2 separate regions of the Homo sapiens genome follow, and region 2 is linked to region 1. The links come from fine-mapping of genetic effects on gene expression. A gene starts in region 1. The other region holds a variant in brackets. All regions are shown on one strand. Distances are between the middles of the regions. Region 1 holds the start of AJAP1 (adherens junctions associated protein 1). Region 2 overlaps AJAP1 (adherens junctions associated protein 1).

Region 1 (9,777 bases):
CCAGCATATAACCTCCCTGAGAAGGAAAAGCGACTTTGCGTCACTCCCCCTGCCCCCGACAACCATGAGCTTCCTGCAAGTTTTACTGGGAGGGGGGTAGCCAGGAAGATAGGAGAGTCAGGGAAGACACTCCTGTGAATGCTTTCAAGAAACTTATAATAATTTTAATCAGCATTTTCCCTTCCATTTAAAATCACAAACTTAGCTACTTAATCAAATGTCATGGTTAAGACACATTTACCTCCTTGGGAGAAAAATGAACAATGGCAGCTCAATTTGGCTTTGGATGGGTTTTAAAAATAGTCAAGTCTGTGAAGGCCATTAGATAAATGGCCTCAGAGAGCTTCAAAGAGGACCTCCTGCAGGGGCCTGCTGGCTCCTTTGTTGGGAAAATAGGGGAGGGGACTAGGTGAGGAGACCGCAGGGGTTCCCCAGGGTTCCAGGCTGTGGACTTCCCCCAGCGGGGAGAAAGGGCCAGAATTAGCAGGGTGACCGGAAGAACTTTCCACAGCATGAACATCTGAACAGTTCCCTTTTGTATCGCCGAAGCTGGGAGGCGTGTGTGTGTGTGTGTGCGCGCGCACACGCGTGTGTGTGTGTGTGTTGGGTGGGAGTGACATACACACAGCTTCCCAATCCCCAAGGGAAGAAAAATGAACCAGTTAGAAATATGAGAGCCATCAATGTATAGAAAACCAGTTCTAGAAATGCTGAAATGCAAGTTAAGGTTTTGTCGTTTTACAGTCTGTAAAAAAAAAAAAAGACAATGATTTTGTCATCGAAATAATAATAATAAGCTGGGCGCGGTGGTTCAGGCCTACAATCCCAGCACTTTGGGAGGCCAAGGTGGGTGGATAACCTGAGGTCAGGAGTTCGAGACCAGCCTGACCAACATGGTGAAACCTTGTCTCTATTAAAAATACAAAAATTAGCCGGGCGTGGTGGTGCACACCTGTAATCCCAGGTACTCGGGAGGCTGAGACAGGAGGCTGAGACAGGAGAACCTGGGAGGCAGAGGTTGCAGTGAGCTGAGATCATGCCATTGCACTCCAGCCCAGGTGACAGAGTGAGACTCCATCTCAATAATAATAATAATAATAATAATAATAATAATAATAGGTGGATTGCTCTTTTTGGAGAGAGGCAGACCTGAGTTACCCTAGAGAAAAAGGAAATCAGTGTACCCTGGTCCCAAATCCTAATTTTAAGCCTGGGTGAGGGCAGAGGGCATCCTCCGTCCCCATAGACTGAAGAAGCCCTCACTCACCCGGGGCAGCAGCTGTAGTCTTAAGGCTCTGACTTCGCCTGGAGACTTCTGCAGGGCTTGTTCCCATCTCGGTTGTCAGAAAACACTTCCTTCTACTATTTTCTTTGTCCAGAGATTCCCAGGGTACTTGGATAGAATTCAAAGGGTCTTTCAACTCGTATGGGGGAAAACTGGCATCTTTATTTAACCCTAACTGAGACTTGGCATTTCCTTTCATTATCAATGTCGGTGGCAGAGCTCAGTGCCTGTGACCGTCAAACATAGAAAGCACTGGCATTTCCATATCACACTGCCATGGCTGCAGTTACCTCAGGATATTATTGCTGCATATCTGGACTTCAAAAGGAACGTAATTTAGGATCTGTCAATTGCTTACTAAGTGTATTAATAAATAATATATACGGCTATATCAGAAATTTGTTTTTATTACTCTTTTGATAATGCATTTGCATAGAATTGGTTTCCTAATAATCCTGGGCTTTTTCATCTATGCACTTAGAAGCCATTCTGAGAGAGGTCAGCAGGTGTCCACAAGGCTGCCCAAGGGGTTCCTGGAGCCGACACGGTCCGGTCCGGAGCCCCTCCCTGCCCTGCTGGCTCCTAGTGTGCGAAGCCGGCCCCTTCCAGGCCCACTCCGGTTGCAGGAAGGGCCTCCCTGGTGCAGCACCGCCTCCTCACACCGCTAGGTGGCAGCACTGCCGGCGCCTCCTTCCCCGCCGGCCGCCATAGGCCCCGCTGGTTCCAGGACCTCCCTGCCTCCTTCGCCTCTTAATGGGATCCGCTCCCTCACACCCCTCAGGGAGAGGCTCTAGGGGACGATGACCCAGGGGCGGCCCGGCAGGGAAACTGCTGAGTCACCCTGCTGCCTCTCGGGTCCTCTGACCGGCTCACAGATCACCATAGCCACAGTGTGTGTAAGGCCTTCTCATGGAGCCCTGCAAACACCTCCCCGGGGAGGGGCTGTGGGACCCATCTTACAGATGAGGAGACCGAGGGTCGGAGAGGCCACACAACTCGGCCAGGACCCCGAGTTAGCAAGCGCTGGCCCCTGGTCCAGCCACGGCAAGGCTGGCCCTCCTGCCACCACACTTCCCTGCCTCTGGCCCTCTGCCGGGAGTCTTGGTGGGGAAGTCACTGTCTTCATCCTCCTGCCCGGGCAGAGTCCAATCCTGTGCCTGGCTCCTCAAGACCGTTGGCAAAGATCCTGGAGGCCTGGGGGTGAAAGGGCTGCTTGGGGGACTTAAGCCCCAAGCTATGGTTCGCCTGGGAGACTGAGCCCCAAGCCATGGTCCTCCTGGCTCTGCCCTTCCACCCCCTCACTGGCTGCCCCTCCCAGGGAGGCCTCACCTGTGAAGTGCTTCCCGCCCCTCTCACCCCCCACGGCTCTCACATGGCCTGGGGCGATTCCAGAGCTGGCCTGGGTCAAGCACCTGCACAGAGCACAGAGCGAAGGCTCGGCATGGTATATCCCCCGCCCCTTGCACCTTTCCCCAGTGAAGGGTGGCACCAGTGTCCTTTCCAAGGCCCGGATTCTGCACTGCCCTCAGCCTGTGGAGGATTAAAAGCAGGGTTTTGCCGTGGTTTCTCAAGGCGTCAGCGGGTCTGCAGAGGATTCCGCCCCATGTCACTTCTCTCAGTGAAAGGTCCCCGCCCAGCGTCTGTCCTCCTTTAAGTGCCCCCCATTTGTTTTTTGTTGTTGTTTTTGTTTGTTTTTTGCAAATACAGACTAACCAGGTAGGCACAGAGGAGTCCTGGCATGGGAAGGGAGCAGTGAAACGCCGGTGGAGAGTCCGGGAGGCCCAGATTCCCTGGAACTTTCCAGTGACTCCTCCGGAGCAAGGGCCTGGCCAGGCAGCAGCTGCGCTGGGCGATGAGGGACCGTTGGGTAATTGGGGGCATAGGACCGGGCTTCGCTGGGTTCGGGGCAGAAGCGCCGAAGCTCCGACCCGGAACGCGGTGACTTCATCAACGCAGAAGCCCGCGCAGCCGAGCAGAGGAGTCCCTCGTAGGCGACCCTCGGACAGACGCTCCTGCGCGGCCCGCGTGGCTCAGCTCCGCCCCAGGAAACTTTTCGCGCAGCCCCCGCTCCATGCGCCCCCACCCAGTCCTTCTTCGGGGCCGCCCCCTCCCCAAAGTAGCTCTCCGGGTCCACTGGGCGCCCCCGTAACCGGGTCGGAACCTCGAACGGCTTCGCGTGCCATCCGGTTACCCTGGCAACACCATCCGGCGGCGCCCGGCGGTCCAATCCTAGCCTGCGGCCTCTCTCGAGCCTTTCGCAAGGTGGGGACCGGGACGCGACCGGGGATGGGGAAGGGGGCTGCAGGAGGCCCCGCCTGCGCTGTCGCCCCTGCTGGGCACAGCGCCCCCCACCACCCGCGGCGACCCCGGCCCCCGCAAGGTGGGGCGGCGAGCAGGAGCCGGGGCCAGGCCAGGGGCTCGAGCTCCCGTTCGAGGGGCGGGGAAGGCGGGTGACGTGAGCCGGGCCGGGCGGGCGGAGTTGGGACCGGCTCCGGGAGGCGGGGGCGAGCGCGCGGAGAGGCAGACGCGAGGAGGGAGGCGGCTGAGCAGCGCGGGCGGCTCTGCGGCGGGCGCGGTGGGCGCGGGCGGCGGGGCCCCGGGATCCCCGCGCGCCTCCTCCGCGCGGCGCCGCCGCCGCGCGTCCCCACGCCCCGCGCTCCACGGCGCCCTCGCCCCGCGCGCCTCTCGTGCCCGCCTCCTGCCAGTCTCCGGGCCGCGGCCGTCTGCAGAGCGAGCGCTCAGACGGAGCCCCCGGGCAACTTGAGTGGCGCCGATCGGCGGCGGAGCCTCTGGCAGAGCCCCCCGACCCGGCAGCGCGGAGGGGACTCGCGTCCGTCCGCGTCGCGTCACCCCAAACCCTAAGCAGCGCCGCCCCATCGGCGCGGAGCTCCGGCTGGAGGCAAGAGCCGCGCGCCGGGAGACACGCACCGTGAGCGGCAGCGCCGCCGGCCTCCCTCCTCGCCGCCCCGGAGGGCGAAGCCGCGGCTCCCCAGCCCTTTGCTGCGCCGCGACAGCGCCGGAACACGCCCCGCCTCGCTGCCGCCTTCGCTGTGCCGCCGGCGGAGGGGGCCGCGAGCCCCGCGCCCCGGCCGGAGGATGTGCGCCCCCGCGGGCCGCCCAGCCTGAGCCATGCGCCCCAACGGCGGCGGCGCGCCGGCCGGCATGGAGCCCCGCGCGGCCGCGCTCTGACTCGCTGTGCGCCCCGCGGCCGGCGGGCGGCGGGAGGCGGCGGACCGAGAGCCGGAGACCGGCGCCGCGGGACGGAAGCGAGCGGGCGCGGGCGCCGCGCAGATGGCCTGGGCGAGCCAGGTCTGAGGCCCCGCTCCCCGAAACGTGACCATGTGGATTCAACAGCTTTTAGGACTCAGGTGAGCGACCCGGCCGGCGCCGGGTGCGTGTGGGCGCGTGGGTGCCAGGCTGGGCGGAAGCGGCGCTTTCCTCTATGTTGCAAATCAAGGGACCCCTCTTCGCTTCCCGCAAGCGGGCAACGGGGTGCACCGGTAGCCGGAAAGGGGCGCCCGCCCGGAGCCTGGAGCAGCACCGCGGCCCTGGCGGGGAGCGGCCGGGTCTCCAGGGTTCCGCGCGTCCGGGGTCGGGGCAGCGGCGCCCGCCCCAGCAACCCGGGAAGTGGGGCCGGCCAGGCGCGCCCGCAGCTCTAGGAGCCAGCAGCGCAGTGTCCTGGCCGGCTGCCCCGGCGCGCCTCCTCCCCGGGGCCCGGGGCGAGGCGCCGGCCGCTGGGCGCGGCGGGCGCGGGGGCCGGGGCTGCCGGGGAAAGCTAAAGCTCCGGGCTCCCAGCGAGAGCTTCGCAGGCGGAGTTGGAGGAAACCACAGCCAAACAGCCACTCCGCTCCCCCTTCTCCTTTCTCGGGGCCCCGGGGCTGAGCAGGGGCCTCCCAGGCTCCCAGCTGCCGACCCAGCTGTTTGCGGGTGACCTCCGGGCCCGACGGGCGCTCACAGCTGGCGGGCAGCTGGGGCGGGAGAGCTGGGGTTCTTGGGGAGCTCCGGCGGCCACCCCGCTGTAAACACACACGCACATACGCCCGCCGGCGCGCCCGGGGCTTGTCTGTGTCTGGGACTCCAGGGCCAGATGGAAGAGGGGGTTCGAGCCTAGAGCCCGTGGTGGGGGTGTCCAGAAAGACCCTTCTCGGCAAACTTTGCCAGCCCGCCGGGGTTCTCGGGCTTCTCTGGCTTCTGCCTGGGGTGGCCCAGGGCCCACCAGAGCACAGCTGTCGTTTTTGCTGGGCAGGCTGCCTCTGAGCCCTCGCCCTCCTGCCGGGGCATTCACCGAGCTCGTGCATTTGGGTCCCGGGTTGGAACCGCGAGCGGGGAGGACAGAGGTGGAGGCGGAGAGCAGCGTGCGGTTCTCGAGTTTGTCCACTGGGATGCACTGCGCTCCCGCGTTGGGGACGAAAAGGCCAGTAGTTGTTAGCCCGCTGCTTGAGCCGCCCCCACTCAGGGATGAAGCTGCGGGGGGAGTGAGGCGAAGGGAGGGAGGATCTAGTGCGTGTCCTGATTTTGAGAAATCGGAAGGGGACTGGGACGCCAAGTGTTTTCTAGCGACCCTTGATTTATGAGCCGATTCTGCTCCCAGAGGTGAATACTGTGTAACACATCTAGTGAACATTGTCAGATGTTATTATTAGCATCCCTTCTCTCAGTGGCCGATCTTGCTGTGGGCTTCAAAGGTTAATCATGGAGCCGATTGTGTTGGGTGTGGGATATTGGTCGGGCGTGAATCGATAAGTGTGCTTGGGCTAGATAAGGTTTAGGCTTGGACCGTTGTGGGATGTTGGCAAAATGGAGCGAGGACAGCTTTGCAGGAATGACCCTGATCCAGGTGCCCTGGAGGCCTGCCATCCCCTGCTCTGCCCCGGACTGTCCCAGGTCTCAGCAAGACCTTCCAAGGCTTTGTGAATGACCAGACGGGTCCCCACACTGGCCAGTGGCTGGTCTTCAGCTCCGACCTGCTTCCTGAGCTGCCACTTGATTCCTGATGGCAACTTATTTGAACAGACATTTTTTTTTATTGCTAAGTTGCTAGATTAAAAGATGAGTACATTTTGATAAAGGGAGAGAAGAGCAAATATCTTGGAAAGAAGCCTCTCTTTTGATTTGAAATTTACTAAAACAGTTCCTCTCAAGCATCCTCAAGCCGGATCTTGGGATTTTGCTTTAGGAAATAGTTCTGTTGGTTCTTTTGAAGTTTGACCTTTCGTTTTTCCCCCCTCGATGTCAGCACAGGAGATTTTCTGTAAGTGTGCCTTTAAGGACGAGCTGTCACCTATTTGGGATCCTGATGGGAGAGCTCTGTCTTGTTACTGCTGTCTCCTGGCCAGAGAAGGAGGCCTGTACCCAGAGGGTCTGGGTGGTTTTGCATCACAATGGGCACCTGGGGACTCTGAGCCAAAGGGTTGCAAGTTCAAGGTCTGGAAATGCACTTTTTCTTTCAAGACAGCCCTTCACCTTTGCTTGCAAGCCACTCCGCGGCTCCCTAGGTGAGCACTGGGCGTCTTGCTGCCAAGCTTGGAGCCTGGTTAGGACAGGTAGACACTGAGCCTCCAGCTGGGGTGGCAGAAGGCCTGGCTTGCTCCACCATGGGAGAGGTGCAGTGTAACTTGCTGGGCAGGGGGTGGGGGTGGGGGTGGGGTGGGCTTTCTTAGTTCCGGCCCCAGAGACGAAGTCTGGGCTTGGTTATTTACGTCTGTGTTGGAACTGAGCTGTATGTGGAGCTTTTTTTTTTTCTTTTCCCCCCAAGAGGGAGAAGCAGATTGAGACTTATTGAGCAGCTTTTGTGTCTTTTGCGGTGGCATTTAATAGTTGTAGCAGAGCTCCAAAGATACTTTCCATCAGCTGAGAGAGAGGGAGCCACGGAAGGAGACCCAGTGGCTTGACAAGCCCTGCCAGAGCTCACCCGTGGAGGAGGCGCGTATTCAGCAAGCAGCTCAGAGCTCACCCGTGGAGGGGGCGCGTACTCAGCAAGCAGCCCAGAGTTTGGAATTGGCTTCCTGGTTGTGAGTTGCTTCCCAGGCTGCAGACCTCAGATGCTGTGGCTTCCTCAGGGGCTCCGAGCGTCCACCTAATACGTTTGCTGGGTTGCGCTCAGGACTGTGATCCCTAGCAGAGTGCCACGAGCTCATTCCCAGCCCATGTCCCTGCGGCCATCCCATCTGTTCTCCCGCTCCAAGGTTCTGGGGCCCCTTTTGTTTGGGAGGCCCTGGGTGTGTGTGTTGACATAATTCACAGTTCCCCAAGCCCTCTCAGTGCGCGCTGTACCATGTCTGGGCCTCATGGCAGGGATCCATTGGCTTGGCTGTCACCATCCTCGCTGTAGAGTCCCCAGGCAGCTGGGGCTGTGCAGCCCAGCTTTAGCGGATGAAGTCAAACGCGCAGTCCACAAACATTGCGCTCCGGGTGAATCCTGGCTCGCGCCGATTTCCAGCTGCTGCTACTAAATTGATTGCAACTGGAATCTATCTAGTGTCAGCGGCTGTGCTACTCCTCGGGGACAATCATGCTTGACTAAACTGCAAATTTAGGAGGCAGCTCAAATCTTTGGGCAACATCGGTACATACCCCCCTTTCATGCTCACCCCCACCTTGGGGATACACTGGCCAAGTGGAGGAGCTGATGGCAGACTCCTCCCAGTGTGTCCCTGTTGTTTATTTACTTTGATCACCTGCTTCCTTTTCTTCCATGCATTGGAGAGGGGAGCAGGGCAACGCAGCTCAGGAATGGAGACAGCCCCACGCCTGCCGGGGACAGCTGTCTCTGGGTCCCTGGAGGCAGAGCAGCGCCGGCTTCTCCAAGGCATGCACCTGCGTCTTTCTAGCGGGGGTCGCTGGAGGTGCTTCTGGACCCCAACCCAGTCTCCACTTCCACAGCGCCAGTCCCTCTGACCCACACACAAATGGGGTGTTTGGCAGGTGGGGCCCTGTGTGCTCCTGGGTTCTGCATTTCCCTGAGCTTTTTGTGGGAAAGCCACAGGGTACCTGGAGTGTGACCCTGGGTTACAATGAAGTAGGTAAACACAAAACCCTGACTGGATTGCAAACAGCTGAGCCTTCAAGAGCCCAGGGGCTCCTCTCAGGGGTTATATAAGAGTCATCTGTTTTAAATACGTAGTTGCCAAGTTTTCTTCAAAGGGTTACAAGTCAGTAGAGACCAAATTGATGTAAAGATTAGCTTGGAAAGCCAAATATATCCTTGATCTAGATTTTACATTTGAAGTCTGGCTTGAGAGGGTTTCTCCTGCCTGATGCCAATCAGACACAAGGAGGAGACAGGAGCAGGGGCTTTCTGGGGCTAGAGCAGGCAAACGTGGTACAGTCGACTCCATTCTTTCTTCCTCTGAGACCCCTTCCAGGAATTCAAAGGGGCTGGTGAGTCATGAGGCCTCGGAGCAGGGAGTGGTGGTGGTTACATAATTCAGATTAACTCTCAGTTAATCTGCCTTGAATAGAGAGTCAGGCTGGAGGGTGTCCATGTCAGACCTCTGGTGGCCCTTGGGCGTGTCCCCAAGTACATCCGCCTCAGAGCTGGGATAAGATCAGGCACCAGGAGGAGAGAGGAGGACTGGCTACTCCTGGGTCAATCCCAAAAGGTTACTTACTATATGATGATTTCATAGCATTGAAATTGAGGTAGGAGATGGGACTTGACTCTGGAGGTGGGACTCAGACTGTGGACCAAATTGAGGACTAGCTAAAACAGGGACAGGATGGAAGCACCATTCCATAAGACATGCCCGTCAATGTGCCATGTCAGTTTACCATTGCCAGGGCAACACCCAGTAGTTACTGCCCTTTCCATGGCGATGACCTGATGACCCAAAAATCACTACCCCTTCCCTAGAAATTTCTGCATAAACCGCCCCTTAATCTCCGTGGAATTAAAAGTAGGTATAAATACAACTGCAAAGCTGCCCCGAGCTGCTACTCTCAGCACGCTGCCTATGGGGCAGCCCTGTTCTGCAGCGGCAGACACGGAGCTGTCACACTGCCGGACCGGTAACACCACCACACCACCAGAGCTGGAACACCTCCTCAATAAAGCTGTTTTTCTTCTACCACTGGCTTGCCCTTGAATTCTTTTCTGGGCAAAGCCGAGAACCCTCATGGTCTAAGCCTCACTTTGGGGCATGCCGGCCCTGCATCAAAATGACAAAATTATAGACGTGGTACAATACTCATACTACTACTGCTACAGATGAGTAGTTGCCAGGGGTCAAAGAAGGAGTGGGGAACGGAAGGAAAGAGGGTGTGGTTACAAAAGGGCAACATCAGGCCTCCTTGTTGTGATGGAAACGTTCTCTATCTTGACTATATCCGTGTCACAATCCTGTTATATTATTGTATTGTCGTTTTGCAAATGTTACCACTGGGGGAATCTCGGTGAGGGGTACACAGGGTCTCTCTGTATGATGTCTTACAATGCCTGCAATTCCACAGTTAAAATTAAAGGTTTAATTAAAAGAAACAAACTAACATTCTCT
Region 2 (9,777 bases), 54 kb after region 1:
ATATTAGCCCTTTGTCAGATAAGTAGGTTGCGAAAATTTTCTCCCATTTTGTAGGTTGCCTGTTCACTCTGATGGTAGTTTCTTTTGCTGTGCAGAAGCTCTTTAGTTTAAGTAGATCCCATTTGCTAGCCATATGTAGAAAGCTGAAACTGGATCCCTTCCTTACACCTTATACAAAAATTAATTCAAGATGGATTAAAGACTTAAACGTTAGACCTAAAACCGTAAAAACCCTATAAGAAAACCTAGGCATTACCATTCAGGACATAGGCATGGGCAAGGACTTCATGTCTAAAACACCAAAAGCAATGGCAACAAAAGCCAAATGGGGAAGTTTTGAAGAGCTTTTTTTTTTTTTTTTTTTTTTTTTTTTTTTTTTAATGAGTACTCCTCCCCCTCCAAGAATGTGCATTGTGCTTAGTGACCTGCTTCCAAAGATTCTGGAAAGGAGCAGGACTGCCTTCCCAGTGACAGCACTGGGCAAACGTCCCTGGCAAATGCTATTCAAGGTCAGCTTCAGCAGGGAGGGGTCCTGTTGAGAGCAGGTGCCCTGGGTACCCTGTATGAGGCAGATACTTCCTCTCTGTGGGCATCCCCCAAAACACAGAAGGCCGGTCTCATCACGGGACACACTTCAGACCAATCAATCAATGAAGAGGAGCATTCTATGCAATCCCTGACCAGTCCTCCTTAGAACATCAAGGTCATCAGCCACAGAGAAAGCCTGAGAAACCATCACAGCCAAGAGGAGCCAAACGAGACACAACCATTTGATGCCACGTGGTATTCTGGATGGGTTCCTGGGACTGAAAACGGACGCTAAGCTAAGTGCAAACTGGAGAAGTCCAAGCCACGTGTGTAGTTCCTGGTTATGCACCATGACGCTGTGGCATGGTGACCTACGGTATCCCTTGAGGGGAAACTGGAGATGAGTTCCCAGCAACTCTCTGGGCTCTTTTGGAATTTTTTGGAATGTCTTAAACTATTCTAAAATAAAAAGCTTTTTTGAAGCAAACCAATAGAAGTAGGGTGGAAGTCAGGAAGCATCTGGACACGGGTCATTGGGGACCGAGGGGTAGACCCTGGGTCCTCGGGGAAGGGAGGTCCACTTCCTGGGTGGGGCCTTCCACAAAAGAGCATGGACTCACAAAAAGCCAACGGCACTGCTGTGTCATAGAACAAATATGTCTGTGTCTATTCTTTCTGCTTCCTGGAGATTGTTTCTAGCGGTGCCCTGTGAACTATTGATCGTAGAAGCACGGGTCTTCTTCAACGAGGAGGCGGAGACCTCAGAGCCCACCTGCCCCAACTTACTGGTATGAATGACAGAAAAACTGGGGCTTGCAGAGTGGGAAGCTACAAGCCCATGCCAAGCTAACTTCCCCATCAAATGCAGCATCCTTCTCCTGGGCCCCAGAGCCAGTAAACGACAGGACCTGGAGGAGTCACGGGAAGTGGGTGTCTTCGTGGAACGGCTGGGGTGGATTGGCCACAGGCACAGCTCCAAGGTCCTGTCCCACCCTGAAGATTCTGGGCTGTTCCCCGGTGGAACAATTCCAGGGCCTGGCCTGCTTCTCACTGCACCAGTGCTCCCACAAGGCAGACACCAGCTGCTCCCAGGAGGCTCACGCCGCACACTCCCGGCTCGGGGAAAGGTGCAACTTTAAGTGGAAGAGATGTCTTTGGCCCCTTAATTGACAGTGATTTTCTTCTGTGAAGAAAATATACAGAAGGTAGTGAATTGAATCTCAATTCACCAAATCTTATTAAACTGTTCTTCGGGAAAAAAGATTTCAATAAAAATTTAAAAGGAAGAGAAGCAAGAAAGCCACAAACTAGAAAATAAAGTGAGACGGAGCAGTTGTTCCCCATTTGGAAGCAGCTGGGGAGCAGGGGGTGGTGGCAAGGAGTTTATTCTTTCTTTGAAAATCATGGGCTCGAGGCTGCTGAGAGGGAGCTGTCCCTGCCTCTTCTCAAAGGGTGTGGATGTGGTCCTCAGGTGCTCAGGCAGGGACCCTGTCTCACGTTCAGGGTGTCCCAGTGAGGACTGGGTGGATGAACCCAAAGTCTCCATGGCTTCCTCCTGCCCATGTGCCTGCAGCTCTGGGGGCCGCTCTGCCTTCCACCCATCCGCCAGGGCCAGGATTAGGGTGCCACGCCATGCACTCCACATTGTCCCCACAACCCTTGCACACACCCCATTCTCTAGCATGTTCCTTTTGATTTGTATTGGGATATACATTGCACAAAACTCACCTATTACAAATGTACAGTTTAGTGGGTTTTGTATAGGCATAGAGTTGTGCAGCTACCCCCACACACAATTCCAGAATATTTCGTCACCCCATAAAGAAACCCCCTACCCCATTACCCCTTCCCCAAGCCTTGGGCAATTGCTCATCTTTCTGTCTCTGTGGATTTGGTCACTCTGTGCATTTCCTATAAACGGAACCGGGCACCGTGTAGCCTTGAGTGCCTGGCTTCTTTCCCTGCTCAGGGTTTTCAAGGTGCTTCCACATTGTAGCATAGATCAAGTAATCCTGCCTTCCTTTTAAAGGCTGAACGATACTCCATTGTAACATTATGCCAGATCCCCTTTATCCATTCCTCAGCTGACGGGCACGTGAGCTGAGTCAGCTTTGACTGTTGTGAGTTGTGAGTGTGGCCCTGGGCCTCCCAGTGCAGGTTTTCATGTGGACAGATGTCTGTGCCTAAGAGAGGGGCAGCAGGGTCCCTGGAACTCTGTCTTTAGGGTTCCAAGGAATTGCCAAACTGTTTTGCCCAGAGGCATTCTGGTTTTCATTCCCACCAACAGCATACTAGGTCTCTCATCTCCTCGTGTCCTCGCCAGCACTTCATGTTCTCTGTCTTTCTGCTTGTAGCTCTCTCTGTGGGTGTGATGTGGGCGGTACGTTTTTTTTTTGTTTTTTTTTTTTGAGACGCAGTCTCACTCCATCTCCAGCCTGGAGTGCAGTGGCATGATCTCGGCTCACTGCAACCTCCGCCTCCTGGGTTCAAGCGATTCTCCTGCCTCAGCCTCCCGAGTAGCTGGGACTACAGGTGTACGCCACCACACCTGGCTAATTTTTGTATTTTTAGTAGAGACAGGGTTTCACCATGTTGTGCAGGATGGTCTCGATCCCTTGACCTCGTGATCCTCCCACCTCGGCCTCCCAAAGTGCTGGGATTACAGGCGTGAGCCACCATGTCTGGCCGGGCGGTATGTTCTTAAGGGGCCTGTGGATGCTTGAGTTTCAGGGGAGCTGGTGCCACTTCTGCCTGCCCCACAGCCTCGCCTCCTGATGGTTGGTGCTGTGGTCGGCAGCCATGCCACAGGGCCTGCCTCCAGAGGAGGTGTGGGGTCGCCTGCCATCTTGGTGCATGTCTGACAGTGCCATGGATGCCCTATGGGGTGAGGCCCTCCCGAAATCTGTTCATCATGAAATGAGAGGTGCTCAGGGCCAAGCCCCAGGCTGAGCAGGATCAGTGAGAAGAGTATTCCCAGGCTCTGCCTCATCTCAGAGCCGCCCAAGGGATGAGGACAGAGATTGTTTGTACTGCTCACTGGTCCTTGGAGATAGAGCCAAGTCCTCCTGCTGCAGAGATGCAGCCTCTCACCAAGGGGTCCCCAAGAGTCTCAGGACCAGGTCCGGGCAGCACACCAAGCTCAGCCGTCTTGGTGGCAATGCAGAGCCTGGGGCCCTTGGCCTTGCACAGAAATGAGCAGTGGCCCCTACACGTCTTCCTATGGGAGGGGCTTTCCCCCTGCCCCCCACATTTCTTGGCTGCTGGGAGTGGGCTGGGGCCTCTGTCCTGGTTGCCCACCTGCCCTCTTTTTTTTCCTCTCTGAACAAATCAATCACTTTAAAAAGGAAGAAACCAGACTTGAAGAGGAAAAACAAATCGACCTCTCCCTGCCACTGTTGCAATTGGTTGGTTTTTCTGCATAACAGCTGGGTGTCTTAGAAATGAGGGGGTTTCTATAGTAACCAATTACAGCCATGATTGGTGAAAAATCACAGAAATATCCTGTGTGTGAAGTTATGCCAGCGAGGCAGGCACGGGCTTAGGTGCTATGGTTTTAATTTCCTGGGGCAATATTTCTCTAAGTACTGATGGCAGGCAGGTTTGCTTGTCATGGCTTTTGATTCAGCCTGCCTGGTGGGGGCTGGTGGGGGCTGGTGGGGCCTGGTGGGGGCCGGTGGGGCCTGATGGGGGCCGGTGGGGCCTGGTGGAGTGTAGTGGGGCCTGGTGAAGCCTGGTGGGGTCTAATCAGGGCCTGGTGGAGTATAGTGGGGACTGTTGGAGTCTGGTGCAGTCTGGTAAGGCCTGGTGAGCTTGGTGGAGTGTGGTGGGGCCTGGTGAGGCCTGGTGAGGTCTGGTGAGGCCTGGAAGACCATGGCAGAGTCTGGTGAGGCCTGGTGGAGCCTGAAGGGGCTTGGTGGGGCCTGGTGAGACCCTGCACCTGCTCAGAGCAGCATCTCATCTTCCTGGGGCTAGACTCCCACCCAGCTCTGCAGGTCATGGGAGAATTAGAGATTCTAAACCAGCTCCCATCCTCACTGGGTCACCTGCAGCCACAGAGGAGCTACCTTAGTGTGTATATGGGGGAATTTCACCCTAACCTAAATTCGTCCTTGTGGTGACAGTGGCCCTGGTCCCTGCCCCGAGCTTGGCTGCTAGTGCAGAGAAATTGCACACCAGCAGAAACACCGTGCTGAGGATTAGCATAATGTGGAGGTCCTCATTTCTGCAGCAAAGCACTTCTATTCTGATTGAAAAACTGAAGCCTTATTGTTTGGGGATTAGTCCTTTTTGGTAATTAGCACTCATTAGCAAGAGTTTCTCTCTCACCATCCTGATGACTGGGGGGCCATCTGTTCCCCAGATATCTGGGAGAGTCAGCACCAGACACAAGGGTCTCAGTACTGAACAGAGGGCGTGCCCCCAGGGATGCGTTCACACACAGCTACAACTAAACTCTCCTACACAGACACACACAGACACACTCACACATAGAGTCTCTCACACAGACACTCACAGATACACTCGCATGCTCACACAGGGACACACAGATACAGTTGCACACACAAATACACACACAGATACTCTCACACAGACACACTCACACAGGAACGCACAGATACACTCATACACACTGACACACACGAGCATAGATGCACTCACACACTTCTATGCTGACACACATGGACACAGTCACACAACAGTACACTCTCACACACGCACCAAATACACACAGACACCCTGGCCCTCACTCACGCACAGTCTCTCACACTCGTGGACACACCCCCAGATGCATCTTTACACTCATGTATGCTGGCTCACTCTCACACTGGCACACTCACACAGCTTGACCCACACGCACACACTCACACCCAGTCACACACGTAC[ACACT/A]CACATACGTGTGCTTGCCTACACGCACACACTCACACACTTGCGTGCACGCATTACAATGACACACACAGCTTCCTTCCTTTGTGAAGTCACTCACCGCCTTATAAAGAAAAACTCTACCCAACCTGCTTTCCAGGCCTGGCTTTGGGCGGCGTCAGGCTGGCGCTTGGCACCTGAACACCCTCGCGCCCCCCACCCGCTTCAGTCATTACAGTTTTGGGATTCATTTTAACTTTCAGACGTGAGGCTGGTGACGAGAACTGACTTTGAATGACACCTATAATCAGTCTTCAATTATCTGTGCTGGTGGAAGAGGGAGCGTGGGCCTGGCTCCTCTGAGCCCTTCCACGTGGCTCTCTGCCGCGCCCTGGTTTTCATGTGACACCAGAGAGTCCACTGGTCCAGAGGCGACCCCAGACCTGGTGACAAAGCCGCTCCATGTGAACTGGGGAGGGGCCGCCCCGCCAGCCCTGACTTCTCCCCTGCAGCCCCGCTGCGTGGAGAGGCAGCCCCGCCCTCCTCAGGGTTGCGCAGGATTTGCCCTTTCTGCAGCCCTCCGGGGAGCTGAGGAGGTGGATAACAGGGTTTCAAAGGGCACCGGCACTGCAGATAAACAGGGGGAGCGGAAATGTCAACAGAACAGACACTTCGCGTCAATAAACTTTAGGTTTATCCGGAGCAGATCTCATTTCCCTGAGTACGATCCAGAGGAGGCCAGAAGTAAGAAGCCTTCCCATGCAGAGCATTTAAAGCGATGCCTGTTTACGATATGCATGCCGGGCTCTGGGTGAGGGGCAGCGGGAGCGGCTGGTGTTTGCAAAGTGCAAGTGCCTGGCAGGTGTAGGTGCTGGGAAGCGCCTGCGCTCACGCTGCGAGGTTTCAAGCTTGAAACCTCCGCTCCTCCTAGACCTGGGGAGAGGCGCTTCCCCAGTGGGCGGGGGGTGGCCTGGGCTATGTAGAGGAAAGCGCCTGGCCCTGGGGTCCCAGGTGGAGGCCGGTGTCCGCTGCTGCCATCCTCTCACTTACGTCCTCTCGTCGTGTGATGGGCAAAAGGAAGGAGGGACTCACAGGTCTTTTCAGGTTATCTTGTCGAGGCTGCCCTGAAAGGCTGGGGGTTTCTGAGGCTCGGTTTTCGCTCGCGTGAAATGGACTATTCGGCGACCGGCCGGCTCTGTGCCTGGCAGGCGCCTCAGCCCCGCGGTGCCGGGAAGCAGCTCCCCGCACCCTCGCAGCGCGCGCTGTTCTTGCACGTGAGTGAGCCTTTGAAGGAAAGGAAGGAAGGGTTTCGGATTCCCTTTTGAAGTTAGGAGGAGCTCTTTCCAGAAGAAGAGAGCGTCCTTGTCACAGCGCGGGGTGGAGAGAGAGGGCCCCGGGGCCCAGTCCCCCTCCTGGGCTTCCACTGACCGCTCTTCTCTCCTTTCCCCCCCGCACAGCTCCATGTCCATCCGCTGGCCGGGCCGCCCCCTCGGAAGCCATGCCTGGATACTGATAGCCATGTTTCAGCTCGCCGTGGACCTGCCCGCCTGTGAGGCCCTGGGCCCGGGGCCGGAGTTCTGGCTCCTGCCGCGGTCGCCGCCCCGGCCGCCCCGGCTGTGGAGTTTTAGGAGTGGACAGCCAGCGCGGGTCCCGGCCCCGGTGTGGAGCCCCCGGCCGCCCCGAGTGGAGCGGATCCACGGGCAGATGCAGATGCCTCGAGCCAGACGGGCCCACAGGCCCCGGGACCAGGCGGCCGCCCTCGTGCCCAAGGCAGGACTGGCCAAGCCCCCAGCTGCTGCCAAATCCAGCCCTTCCCTCGCCTCTTCGTCCTCGTCCTCGTCCTCCGCGGTGGCCGGTGGGGCCCCGGAGCAGCAGGCCCTCCTGAGGAGGGGCAAGAGGCACCTGCAGGGGGACGGTCTCAGCAGCTTCGACTCCAGAGGCAGCCGGCCCACCACAGAGACTGAGTTCATCGCCTGGGGGCCCACGGGGGACGAGGAGGCCCTGGAGTCCAACACATTTCCGGGCGTTTACGGCCCCACCACGGTCTCCATCCTACAAACACGGAAGACAACTGTGGCCGCCACCACCACCACCACCACCACGGCCACCCCCATGACGCTGCAGACTAAGGGGTTCACCGAGTCCTTGGATCCCCGGAGAAGGATCCCAGGTGGGGTTAGCACAACGGAGCCTTCCACCAGTCCCAGCAACAACGGGGAAGTCACCCAGCCCCCAAGGATTCTGGGGGAGGCCTCAGGTACAGCCATCTCTCTTCTGGTTTGGGTTTGCTTGGGGTTGAGGGCTGGGAGCGTGACTCGGGAGAGATGCTTAGATGTCCCTGGGTGATGCTATGTGTGGAGGCTCCAGGAGATGCAGGCGTGATGTGTCCATGAGCTTGCACATGCCTGTAGACTGGCAAATACAGGCTGTGCCTTAGAGGAAGGGGGCGTGAGAAGGGAGAGTTTCCCTTTTTAGTATGTACCTAGAAGTGGGCGCTGCACCCCTTGTGCCTCTGTTAGGGACCAGCTGAATCCACCAGGTGCTGCAGCCCTGTTACAGACCGGTGGAATCCACCACACACAGCCACGCCTTCCAGAATCAGAGAATTTTGTCTCTGGGGCCGGCCCTTGAGCAAGATGCTTGCCCGTCTCGTGATACAATTAAGGATCCCCCCGCCCCAGAGTCTTCAAAAGCCTTCAAGGGTATGGGACCCATGGACGGGGGCATGGACGGGGGCAGGGTGCCTGCCAACTTGACCTCGGTAGAGGATTAGGAATGGCCTTAAATAGCAAGAAAGGCCGAGGCTGGGTAAAAGGAAGAACTTCCTGCGGTGTTAACAGAACCTTCGCAGACAGTGATTCAGGTGGCACCTTTCGGCTCCCTGGGGATGTGTCAGGAGGGTGTTTGGAGGACGGAGATCAGAACAAAGGGCTTTGGTTCTTCTGCTGCTGTTATCCTAGCTGCCTGTGGACACACACAGTTCACTGGCTTTGGAATATCTCCTTCTGTGCAGTTTTGTTGTTTTTTATTTTCCTCCTATACGCTGTCCTCCATTTGCTTTGAAAGGAGTAGCCCTTGGAAATCTCCCAAGCCAGGGCTTGTCCCTGAACTGGTAGCCTGCACTGATGTCACCAGGCTTCACAGCAGGCCTGCGGGGAGAGCGCAGAGCCCTGGGCACCCCGTCACCCTCACCTCCCTCCAGTTTTCTCTGCCTCTGTTAACAGGCACAGCCCGATGTGCCAGGTTGGCTCAGAAGTTCACAACCTAGATCTGTGCATACACATTCTAGACAAACAGCAACATTTGCTAACTTTAAAATCGGATGCAGATTTTAGGGCGTCAGTACAAAGTGGGCGGGGGCGCCCTGTGGCCTCCTCACAGCTTGCTTTCCACAACCTCCAGCTTGTGGGCTCGGTAGGCCCCACCCAGGCCTCTGCAGAATCAAGGGGAGGGAAGAGAACTGCTCTTCAGAGCTCATGTGCAGGCGGCCGGCATGGCATCCAGGCCCTCTGCGTCCTCACTAGACTGCGTCCTGGCCCTGGTTCCTCCTCATCTTGGGCAGGCAGGCACCGGGCAGTCCTTGGACAGGTTTTCATGGGGTGGGTGGCTTTTGTCCTTCAGCCGGTGACCTACTTTCTTCCTTCACCTGGACAAGAGAACCTGCGGTTTTTTTTCTGAGCTCCTCTTCCCTAGAGAGCAATGTCTCTATGGAAGCACAGCCTGGGCTCCCTGCGCATGCTGAGGGCCATGCCCAGAGATGGAGGCTGTGGGCTTGGGAGAGGCTCTGGAGGAAGAGGCTCCGGAGGAAGAGACTCTGGAGGTCCTGCATCGGCTTCCTCCCATGCAGCCTCTTTTGGGAATCCACGGACATGCGGGGTCTGCAGCTCATCCTGCACTGTCAGGCGCCTGCTAGCAGTTTACAGAGTGTTCATTTTTACCTCAGTAAACTCAGCAGCCATCATCATAGTAGGATTTCTTGCTACTCTCCCTTACTGTCACCTCCTCTGTATACGTCACTTACTATATAGACATGGATGAGGAAACAAGTTCCCATTTATTCCAAATTACATTTGTTATTACTAAAGTTAAACACCCGGGACAGCGTTGTAGGCTTAGCAAATTAATTCACAGTGCATTGGATGTTGCTAATCCATCTCGACAGATGCTTATCTTGGAAGCGATTTATGGTTCTTCATAATATAATCTGGTGCTAGATTAATTTGTTTAGCAAAACAAATCTAAAAAGAGGAAAATATGTGTGTTTGTTTCTAATGCAGAGAAATGTTAATTCTGGAACGCAATGCTGGGCCACAGGGAAGGGAACAGGTGGTTTACAGCAGCGCTCATCAGGGCTAGGCCACCATCCTGAGCTTCCCAGCCAAGGC

What was found. PIP is the estimated chance that this variant, and not a neighbour inherited with it, causes the effect.
Region 2: its variant is fine-mapped to the expression of AJAP1 in whole blood (TOPMed, PIP above 0.99).

Annotation. Positions count from the first base shown.
Region 1 is chr1:4,650,802-4,660,578 of GRCh38, forward strand. It overlaps AJAP1 (adherens junctions associated protein 1), which reads left to right and starts at 3,808. Exons shown (of 6, transcript NM_018836.4): 1 at 3,808-4,653. The coding sequence starts at 4,625. RefSeq lists an enhancer at 1,799-1,848.
Region 2 is chr1:4,705,051-4,714,827 of GRCh38, forward strand. It overlaps AJAP1 (adherens junctions associated protein 1), which reads left to right. Exons shown (of 6, transcript NM_018836.4): 2 at 6,850-7,649. Among named protein-coding and RNA genes, the nearest start is that of AJAP1, 55 kb to the left of the region's middle. RefSeq lists a silencer at 903-1,097 and enhancers at 3,959-4,871, 5,322-5,940, 5,941-6,557. The variant ACACT/A (reference allele first, on the strand shown) is at 5,413.